3 linked regions of the Homo sapiens genome follow. The protein of the gene in region 1 purifies or fractionates together with the protein of each later gene. This does not show direct contact. Each region holds a gene or a part of one and is shown in the gene's direction. Other genes may lie near its edges. The genes, in order: FAM222A, PBX1 and MEIS2.

What was found.
Region 2: the proteins of FAM222A (region 1) and PBX1 purify together in Homo sapiens (affinity purification with mass spectrometry; 2 studies listed by BioGRID and IntAct, with this or other methods). This does not show direct contact.
Region 3: the proteins of FAM222A (region 1) and MEIS2 purify together in Homo sapiens (affinity purification with mass spectrometry; 2 studies listed by BioGRID and IntAct, with this or other methods). This does not show direct contact.

The regions. Positions count from the first base shown.
Region 1 is NC_000012.12:109,716,744-109,720,395, forward strand, and holds part of FAM222A (protein FAM222A), read left to right. Parts: intron 1-3,652.
Region 2 is NC_000001.11:164,807,077-164,810,728, forward strand, and holds part of PBX1 (pre-B-cell leukemia transcription factor 1), read left to right. Parts: intron 1-465; coding exon 466-601; intron 602-3,652. UniProt on the Homo sapiens protein: Transcription factor which binds the DNA sequence 5'-TGATTGAT-3' as part of a heterodimer with HOX proteins such as HOXA1, HOXA5, HOXB7 and HOXB8. Binds to the DNA sequence 5'-TGATTGAC-3' in complex with a nuclear factor which is not a class I HOX protein.
Region 3 is NC_000015.10:37,090,512-37,094,163, reverse strand, and holds part of MEIS2 (homeobox protein Meis2), read left to right. Parts: intron 1-433; coding exon 434-583; intron 584-3,652. UniProt on the Homo sapiens protein: Involved in transcriptional regulation. Binds to HOX or PBX proteins to form dimers, or to a DNA-bound dimer of PBX and HOX proteins and thought to have a role in stabilization of the homeoprotein-DNA complex.

The DNA.
Region 1 (3,652 bases):
GGAAAGGCTGTCAGAATTGGGCAATTCCTTCTGTTCCCTTCCCTCATCTCCCTGGGCTTGGCACTCAGCGTGCCAGACGATGAGCAGGAGGGAGTGCCAGCTTTCTCAGCATCTCCCTATATGCCAGGCGTTTTACATGATCTCAGTTACTCCTTGGAGTGGCTCATACGCTGTGGCCCATTTTATAGCTAATGAAACTGAGGCTTAAACAGAGGAAGTGATGGGCTACAGGTGATCAGCCAGGCAGCTGCAGAGGTTCGGTCCTGAATTGCCCTCCTGGCTCCAGAGTCCTTGTGTCTTACCACCTCCTCCCATGGGGTTTGGGGGACACTCCTACTTATTGGACAGGGGTCCCTGCAGGCATCAGAGGCTATCAGCCATGGAGGGGGAGTCTGGCCCCACCAAGATGCTTTGTCCACACCAAAAGGCAGATTTGAATCCTCTCTTCCTATGACCTACAGGTCAGCGTTGAGTAGATTAACAACTTCCGCCCGGCCTTGTGGTCTGTCTGGTCCCCTCACCCCCAGGACTCCTTTCTCCAGCACTAGGGGAAAGAAGGTGTAGCTTGAAACTCGCTCCTTGTCACCTGCCCTTCTGGGCTTGCTTGGAGGGAGGCGGTGAAGCTGCCCCTGGCCGCCCCAGGGACCTTCTTGGGATGTAGATGGAGCAAGGGCAAACTAGTAGATGAGGTTCCTGACCCAGCCTGAGGGTCAAAAAGCCCTAGAGGAGAGGTGGCACATGAGTCATGAAGAGGACAAATAGGAATGTGCCAGACAGGAGTGAGAAGACTGTTCTGGGTGGCCGGAGTGGCCCTGGAGCAGCCAGTGATGTGTGTGGGCCCTCGTGCCTGATGGGGAAAGGGGCAGCCGTGAGTGGCTGTGTCCTGGAGCCTTAGGTGGATAGGGAAGGTTTAAGCAGGGCAGAGGATCCATTGATCTCCTTTGACAAGGACAGTAACCCTGGACATCTCTTCCCGTAAGCGTGGAAGTGGCCACCTCGGTTCTGGGGGCAGTCTCCTCTCTTAAGGTTGGCCCCACCCCCACTAATCCTTCTCACTTATCTAATTCCTGTAAGCTCGTCCATCCCCTGTCCCTTCTGAGCCTTAGGGCTGCTCTGGACTAAACTGGGACTGGGCTGGACTGCTGAACCCCCTTGATGAGAAACTTGAGGCGCCCTGGTGATGGGCAGTGGCTCCTGATTAGGTGCCAGGCTCTGGCGTGGGTTGGGCCTGGATCGTACTCTCAGCCCGCCGCTTGCAGGCTGTGTGACCTCGGGTGAGTACCTTTGCCTCTCTGAGCCCCAGTTTACTCATCTGTGAGAAGGACCATAGCACTCACTGTGCAGGGTCTGGTGAGGATTCAGGGAGGGCCTAGCACAGCACACAGTATACAGTAAGCACTCAAACGCATGTTGTCATGGCTACTGTTACCTCCTCCTCAGAACGGAGCCTTGAATGACTCAGTCCCTTGGAGCCAAAGGTTGAAGACCCCATTTGCAGGGAGAGGCCCGAACTCTACCAGCTATCTCTGCCAGGGGCTTCTCTGTCCACTGAGGCCCCCACCCACCCACCCACATGGTGAGCACCGGTGGCTCTTTTCTGAGCTTCTGCGGGGGCTGGGACTTGGCCGGGGGTCCCTCCCCAACCTCCCTCCAGCCCCCTCTGCCTTCCCATCCCTCACAAACCGGAGGAAGGCAGCGAAGCAGCTCATATTCATGAACCGTAATTCAATCAGGCGGCGATTCCTCTGGGCTCGGGGCGGGGGTGAGAACGAGGAGGCGCGCACAAAAGGGCCGCTTTATTACCTCCCGCGGGCCGGGAATTGCTGCTCTCTCCCAGCAGCGGCCGGAGCCGCTTTATTGTGTTAACCCATTTGCGTGTCAAGAGCTATTGGGCGCTTTCTCTGCCTGTGCGTTGCGGGCCGCGGGAGGAGGGCTGCGGTGCCGGCCGGTCACCTCCGCGGGCGCCGCCCGCCGCCCTGATTGGTTGCTAAGTGATTTGCATCCAAGGTAATCACTTTTATCTCAGAAGGATGTCGACTATAATTATAAGCTACTGACATCTTTTGAAATCTGCCTAATGACTATTTTAGTCTGCACGGGCTGGGTGTAGGGAGGGAGATTCTGGAAAGGGTGGAGGCTGGGAAGAGGGATGGATTCCTTCCACCTGGACCCCTGATTGCTTAGTTGAGAAATATCTGAGTACCTACTGCATGCATCAAACAAAAGATGGGGTCTCTGTGATGGGGGGCTTGCATCCCTGTGGGCAGAGTTAGTGCCACTTCAGAGATGGGGAAACGGAGACCCTGGGGAAGGGGCGACCTGCCCAGACCACACAGCCAATGTGCAGCCACCATCTGGGTCTCTCTGACCCCAAATTCATGCCCTGACCACTCCAGTGGTCACAGTCAGGAATCATGTAATCATGCCTGGATACAGGTCACCAGACTAGTACCTTCCAGAGTTTACGTCATAACCCTAAGAAATGCACATGCTGGTACCACCCCCATTTTGCTGAGAAGCAGGGGCCCAGAGAAGGTATTATACTTTGCTGCCCGAGGTCACACAGCCAGGGAGTGGCAGAAGTATGAGGTTCATTGGCAGCCAGAGATGGGAAGGCAGAGGCGGGGTTCCAGCTTCCCACTCCTCTTCCCACCCACTCGTGGTTCCATTCGGTAAAACCAGGCTTTAGGTAAAGACTGAGCAAGGACACCCTGTCGCCCGTGTCCCAGTGGTCAAGTGATAAGAAATCAGATGGCCCACAGCCTCTAGAGGGAGTAAGATGAGTCTGCAGTTAACTGGAATTCTAGACAGGGCTGGAGCAGGGCTGGAGGAGGGAAAACCTGCAGCTGGTCCTGGAGGGCTTCCTGACAAAGCGGGCTGTGCTCTGTGCCCTGAGGACTGAGTGGCTCTCCCCAGCATGGAGTAAATGGGGGTGTCTCTGGCAGAGGGAGTTTGGAGACCCGGGAGCATGACCAGGAAGGGCAGGGGGAGCTTATAAGATGGTGGAGGTGAAAGGGAGATTAGGAGGGTGTGCAGGGGGCATCGGGTGCTGAGCTAAGGGTGCTGTGAGGCCCTGAGGAAGAGGGAAGCCAGTGAAAGCATCTGAGAGGCAGGGGCCAGCTAAGATCCCAGTGCCTTAGAGGCCAACAGAGAGCTTGGGAGTCGCAGACCTGGGCTGAAACCCGGTGAGAGAGAGCACCTGCACTCTCACTGGCTGTGTCCTCAGAGAAATTATTTTACCCCTCTGTGCCTCAGTTTCCTCTTGTTCAGGAGAGTCTCAACAGCTTTCTCATGGGCTTGTGGGTGGGGTGAGCTTGCATGTGCATAGTGCTTGCAGGGGGCTTAGCTGAGCCCCTCAGAGCTGGGTGGGCTGGGCTTGAATACAGGCCTGGGCCAGTCCTGGCCCCACAGCAAGCCAGCATCCCAGCCGCAGCAGCTGTTTGGGGCCCTGGGGGCCCCTGCTATTGTGCAGAGGGCACAGGGGACAAAGGCCTGGGAGGTCAGGGGGTGAGGCCGAGACTAGCTGTGAACAGGCTCCCGGGGATGGGGACTTAATGACGCAGAACTTAATGACCCAGAGTCTGTGGGGAGGGGGGCCTCCCTTGGAGGAGGAGGGAGGTCCAGCCACCAGCTGTCTGCTCCAGGATTCGCT
Region 2 (3,652 bases), on another chromosome or scaffold:
TGAAACCCCATCTCTACTAAAAATACAAAAATTAGCTGGGTGTTGTGGCACGTGCCTGTAATCCCAGCTACTCAAGAGGCTGAGACAGGAGAATCACTTGAACCCAGGAGGTGGAGGTTCCAGTGAGCCAAGATCACACCACTGCACTCCAGCCTGGGTGACAGAGTGAAACTCCATCTCAAAAAAACAAACCAAGATGGCCCGAATTTTGAAACTTTATACTCCTCACTACTCTGCAAAAATATCTGTGACCACTCTTCTGTTCGGTGCCCAGATGGTACACAATGAAGTATTGAGCAAATGCTTTTAGCGTTGGTTTTGGCATCCAGCCCCTTTTGGTAAATCTGCTCCAAATTCACCTTTTGCTCAAAAATTTGTCTTCTCCCAGAAGTAGATTTATTCTCTCCCATTTTATATTTATTTGGTGTGAGCCTTTTTGTTATTATTTCCTTTCTCTTTACAAAGGCGGAAGAGACGGAATTTCAACAAGCAAGCGACAGAAATCCTGAATGAATATTTCTATTCCCATCTCAGCAACCCTTACCCCAGTGAGGAAGCCAAAGAGGAGTTAGCCAAGAAGTGTGGCATCACAGTCTCCCAGGTAAGCAGCACCTCAAAAGCCTCAGCCTGTAGCCTGGCCATGGCGGGGCCTCCGGGGCAGGCTCTTAGAGGTCTTGCTTTACTGGACATTCATGCCTTGCAAGTTCCATCAGCTATAGCCTTAAAATATCAAGGTAAGCACTTGATGTGTATGCGTATAAGTGAGTTTCTAGGTAAGTACTTGGCAAAACTTGAGAAGAACCAGCAGAAGGAAGAGAAGAATAAGTAGAGTACAATGTAAAAACAGGATTAGGGTTCTTCCCATCGAGCACTCCTTTGCTTCAAATGGGTGAGGTGTCTAAAGTGTACTAGGAAAGTTATCTGCATTCCTCATGCTGTTTTTTCAAATTCAGTCAATTCCTTAGCCATTTTTTGCCCAACCCAGGAACTTTAAGAGTCAGTGAATGGAACTAGTTGTTATATAGCCTTTTAAATGAAAGAACTTAAATGTCTCCTCTTGATGTGCTGACTCTATAACTGATGGGAGTGTAGGAATTTTAACATGTCACTGCGATTACATTGGAATGGTGAACAAAATGTCACTGAATGCCCCCTTCCCCCAAAGAGCAATAACCATAACAGGTGGTGTCTGATGACTTGGAAAGATACATGACATAAAATTTTTATAGGCCTAGAGTTTTCAACACGAATATGAAGCAGAGAAGTAGGCAATAATTATGTGTACGTGTATTTTGTCCACTCAAAAGATCCACCCAAACTTCTTATTCAGTCTGAACCTCAAATACCACCACTGGTTTCTAATTGAGAACCATAGTGATAATTCTGAAATCTATCGGAGAAGGTTTTTCTTAGAATTTTGTCACATGCAGGAGAATTAAATGTACTGATATTTCCATTAAAACTGGGGAGGGGAGGGAGTAGTGAAGGCTACTGTAGCGAGAAATTTCACTTACCATTTTTCAAATGAAGTAGATGCTCTTTTATATAAACTAAGCATCTGTACCTCCTTGAATTGAATCCTGACTTCTGTTAATCCCTGCAGGGTGCTGATCCCATCAACCTGTGTTTAGCTGTACAGAATTAGGTCCAGTCAGAATATAGAGCTCCACAAAAGTATTGACAATGAAGGGACTGTCCAAGCCTTCCCAACAAACTAAGATGATTTTACAGCAGCAAATATCCTTGAAAACATTCTTTCAGATAAAGCAGAATGAATTGACTCCTTTTTAACCTGGGCCTTCCTTAGGTGCTTTGACCCAGCTGGAGGTCATTTTTAGTCTTGACAGTTCTGGGAAACGGGAACGTCAGCGGTCAAACTCAAGTAGCCTAGTTTTTTCTAGGGCTGTCACCATTCTTATCCAAATCTAAACCCCTTTTCCACAAAAAAGGGAATTAATGCTTTTTGATACTTGCTACATGTTTGAGGAATGCTTCTAGGTATGGACCACAAATATGCAGCAAATATCAAATCACTGAATTTTATCATGGAACCTTCTGCTTTTAAAATATAATTAAATTACTACTGTCTGAATTCCAAGTGTGGAATTCAGAATTTCAACTTCCTGTTGAAGGTAAAAGGAATTCTCCTGGAGGTAATTTGTAGTATAGCTGGATACAAGTTAAAATCCTGATCTGTTCCCGCAACCTTCACTTCCTTCATTATGGAAACTCAAGGTACAAATAGTGTGTCCATTAAAATCCTTATTTACATATTGTGTCACCTTTCCCTTTCCTCTGTCCATGCCAAAGTCATGCCATTCTTTCTTCCCCATCACATCTGTCTCTCCCCAAAGCAACTAAGCTACCATTGCTAAACAAGTCCAATGGAAGACAGTATAATATGATGTCATAGAAGGAGCATTAAGCAAGGAGCCTATTTTTGACAAGAGTCAACTGTGGGATCCTAGGGAACTCACTCTTTCTTTTTGGATCTTAGTTGCCCCATTTACTAATCATGGTTTGTTGGATCACATGATTTATTAAATCTTTCTCCTAATTCCCAAAGCCAGGGAATACCTCTTGGGCTGTATCATTATTGTCTTTTTTTGAAGTCACAAATTCTTTTGAAATCTACTAAAAGCTATTGATTTCCCCCATGACCCAAAACAAAGATATGTTGCCCATACACCCAAATCCATCTGAAATCCGCCTATTGACTGTATCTCCTCAGATCCCTAAAGAGCCCTTTTTCTATACCAGAGCTACTCTAAGTGTGATCCACAGAATGCAGCATCAGCATCCCCTGGGAGCCTGTTAGAAATATAAATTCTTGAGTGTCACCCTAATTCTGAATCAGAATCTTTGAGGGTGAAATCTATAATAGAAATTTGTTTTAACAACTTCCCCATGAACACTTAACTTTGAAAAGCAATGTTCTATATGCTTTATCTGAGTGATCTTTTCCATGCTCACAGCTACAAATAATACCTCCATTTGAATACCTAATGGAACTTCTCCCCTGCAGCACCAAACTCATAAATTTTACTTCCTAATGGACTTCATCATGGCTCTGCCCAGAGGTTCTTCAAAATTAACTTGTTCAAAATGTGAATCAAACTCTTCCCATAAAACCTACTATTCTTTCTGTATTTCATGTCTCATTCTGTGTCTGTTATCTATACATCCCTAGTGCCTAACGCGTATTAGGCCCTTAGTCCATGACTGTTGAGTAATTAGTTCATTCATGATAACACTCATTTTATACATTGTCCAGATCATTGTCTGTTGGACAATGCAGGAAGTCCCTGAACTGACCTAGCACCTTCCTACCAGTTCCATTGTTGTCATTTAGAAGGGTATCATTCCCACAACATGTCCCCTCTTTACCCCCTTCAGCTCATATTTTTTTTACATATAATTGGACCTCAGGTATTTCTTCTTCAAAAGTCCTCTGAAATTATCTTCATCTTTTTCCCTTTTCTTTCAGCTTGTGCAGTTATCTGAGAAAAAAAATCTCCTTACCTTTTTTCTTCTTTTCCTATCCCATAAATCAAAAAGCAACCATAATTATGACTGATTCCTATGAATAGTGAAAGTTATGTCAAGAAAAACATAAATTTCAAAGTGAAACTAGATATGCAGTGATCCTGAA
Region 3 (3,652 bases), on another chromosome or scaffold:
GGTGTCTTTACATTGCTCTGCAGCTCAATTACTTTCCCCTGGAAACATACGAAACCCCTAGCTTATAAAATCACAAACGTTAATGCTCTCCCCAGCTCCAATGTTGTAATGTTTTGATGTTATTATCAAATCAGATTTAATTCCCTGGACTCCCACTCTGAACCCAGTTATTTCCAGTCCTGTTTCTTTCTCTCTCTATTGTAACTTGTTGCTCAGAGAAGTCTCTGGAGAATAATATCTGCTGCAACAATTACTCTATTGTTTCCTTGCCTTCAACTATTACACCCTTTAATTAGAGTTAGTTTGGAAGACATCACACTGTTGCTCTTTGCAAATGTAACCTTGCAACCTGGTATTTTTCCTTTCTAAAAATGAAACAAAACAACAACAACAACAACATGAGCTAAACCCTCCACCATGACCTTCGTTCTAGGTCCACGAACTGTGCGATAACTTCTGCCACCGATACATTAGCTGTTTGAAGGGGAAAATGCCCATCGACCTCGTCATTGATGAAAGAGACGGCAGCTCCAAGTCAGATCATGAAGAACTTTCAGGCTCCTCCACAAATCTCGCTGACCATGTAAGTCTGCTAGCCTTTAGCAATCTTTTAAGGCCACTGGGCAAAGCATTATTTTAACCTTGTTTTAACATCTAGCTCCACTGATTTAGTTTTCTTTTTAAATGACTCCGTCTCTTTTGGGGTCTTTTCTTCTCTTTCTTGCTTTCTCTGCCATACCCTTCATTTTCATTTCTCCTTTCTTGGACCCCCTCCTATTTATGTTGAGAGCCAAAAAACCAGAGTTGATAGAGTGATTTGTGCTCTTAATGTGTAAAGTTTTCTGGATTTGGTGACTTGGGTGTTCGCAAATTCTGTTTGATATAGTCACCACTGTGTTTTCTGCTTTCTTAATTTTGTGTAATCAGTGCAGCAGGGATAGAAAGAAGCAAGACAGTTAGCTGGACTGGTCTGGAGAGAGAGGACTGAATGAAAGAGAATTGAGTGAGTGCTGATTTCCTAGTATGTCACAGAGATGACAATTCTGAGAATTATTGGCAATCTTGCACTGCATTCGAAATAAAAGGGGTGAACAAACACATTACAATTCTCAGGGCTTTTGCTATAGAAACTTATTGTCAGAATAGGGACTTATTGCCAAATGCCTGAAGCATCTTCATAATAAAAGACAGTAACCTTGATGAACCAATTATTAACAATGTATTACAGAAAGCTGAAGGGAATTATGATTGAGTAACCATAGGTTAGTGGTTGAATTTTAACACTTTAACAGTTGGTGAATGAGGATGGAGAGTATAGTAAGAAATGACTGTGTATGTCAGGCCAGGAAAGGAGATTTCTTTCTATTCTCTCTGTTTCTAATCCTATTTTGGAACCAATCTAGTGAGTCTGATGCTAAAAAAAAAAAAAAAAAAAAAAAAAAAAAAAAAAAAAAAAAAAAAAAAAAAGCATATGTAGTGAGACTGAAAATTTGAAAAAGAAGCAAAGAGAAGAAAGATTGCAGCTGGTAGGAAAGGCAAGAGTGGCGAGGTTAAAGAGTGGGTGTGAACAGCAGTTTTATTTATAGGAACTCAAGCCTGGAAATGGGGGACAGGGTGTCTATAGATTACATTCAGTTGAACTCACAGCCTAAATAATATAAGCTGTAGTTTAATAACTTTGTGGCCGAAATATTAATTTGACACTCCGTGTGAGTTAAACAGGCATTAAGGCTTGAAGGCAGTTTGTCCCTACCTCCCATCCCAATTCCTGACTGGTATGAGAAATGAATTGGGATGCCTTAGTATAAACCTTCTATGAGGTTCTTCTCTCCCCTGCTCCAGACAAAAGTTTTGAAAATATGCAGTCATAGATTTTCATAATTAACCTTTGCACTTGTATGGGAAGCCAGCCTAAGAACAAAAGTTAGAAAAAGTCTAGAAAAGAAAACCGCAGTCTGGGATATCCAGTTCTGTGACAGAATAAATACTGCGGTGTTGAAGGCTCCTATTCTTATCTCTTTACCCTTACCTTTTTCCATCATGGTGAGGGAATCTTTGGTGATCTCCTTTGTATATTGAGTGAATGTAATGAAATCAAAAGGATGCAGCAGTGGTTATGGAAAGTTTATTTGCTGATCTGTGGCTCCACAGTGTGTTGTGGTCCATGAGGCATGACACTACCTAAGAAATATTTACATTTGTTGTTTTTTGTGTGTTTATTTTCATTGTTTTCTGTTTCTATATTTATATTTATTCACATTATTGGGAGACTGGGGAGGGATCTATTTACATGGTTTGTAAAATGAGAGGTTCACAGTTCTCGGAGCCAAAAGCTTTTCTCATGATATTTCTAGGAGTACCTACTACTTAGTTTTCTAAAACAGTTTCTTGGCAACTCTTTTTCCAGTGGATGTATACAGCTAGACCATGTTGATGTTTACATAGAAAAGATAAGATAAAATAGGCTGTTTAAAGTATTGGCTGATAGACAATATCAATTTATGAGACTATTGTAATATTTAAATATCCACTCAAGAAGGAAGTTGTACCTAAGAGGATAGTGCTTTAATAATTTATCAATCATCATCTTTGGATAAAAGAGTCAACTGTAACATTTGTTGCTCTCCTTTCAGGCCCCCAGTCAAGTAAATATGACAACTGATTTATTTTGAACCCATGAGGGCTTGCCACTTCATTGGGTGTCATAATTTAAAGCCTTTTATTTCCTAGAGATCTGAACTATAACATTTTTACTTTAGCCCCCTGCTATTTGTTTTGAAAGGAAGCAATAATTTGTTCCACCAGCACACCAAGTAGAAAACGGAGAGATTTGCCACAGACTTGTATTTTATGCAGGGACATGAGAGAAAACCTTGGAGAGTTTTCACCATTTTTGAGACTTTTGTACCATAGGTGTATTGATTGTATTCATGTCCAGGCTTCCCCCTTCAAAGCAAATCCTCTTATGCTTTTCAGCCTCTTCTACAAAGTTGCCTTCCTTCAACCCCCTAGCCAAACACAAAGTAAAAATAACAAAGAACCACTACCTGAAAAGTGGTGTGAGTGGGACATTTTCAGCATGTAAATGTGCCCAATTTGAATCTTCAGGTTTATTTTTCATTTGCTTTGATATGCATATTTAATACATTGCCCCAGGCTGGATCTCATTTGGTGAACACTGGTGCAGGGGTGATGATGAGCCACTTCAGAAAGGCCCAGACAGCGCGTTGTTTTCTTGTTTTATCTGTTGGCCCACTATTCTGATCTGAGCTTCCTCTTGGTTTTATTTGCACATGAAATGCTGAGAGCATTTCAACTTATTGGCTATGAATAATGACAGCTAAAAAAGAAGTGTAGTTTAATTTGTTGTATGCCAAGGTTTCTCTTGTGGAGGTGACAGTTTGTGACAGCTGTTTGACACCCCCAAAACACATACACCTCTACTCTTATTAAGTGGTATCCAGCTTCATTGTGTGTGTGTGTGCATACTCGTGTGTGTGCATGTTTAAGGAAGGAACATGCAAGGAGAGAGAGAAAAGCAGAGAGAAATGCATCAGAAGCAAAATATTAGGTACCAATATAGTTTCAGTATTCTTTAAAAGAATTTGAAAATGTAAATAAATAAAAGTAATAAATATAAATATCTTCAAAG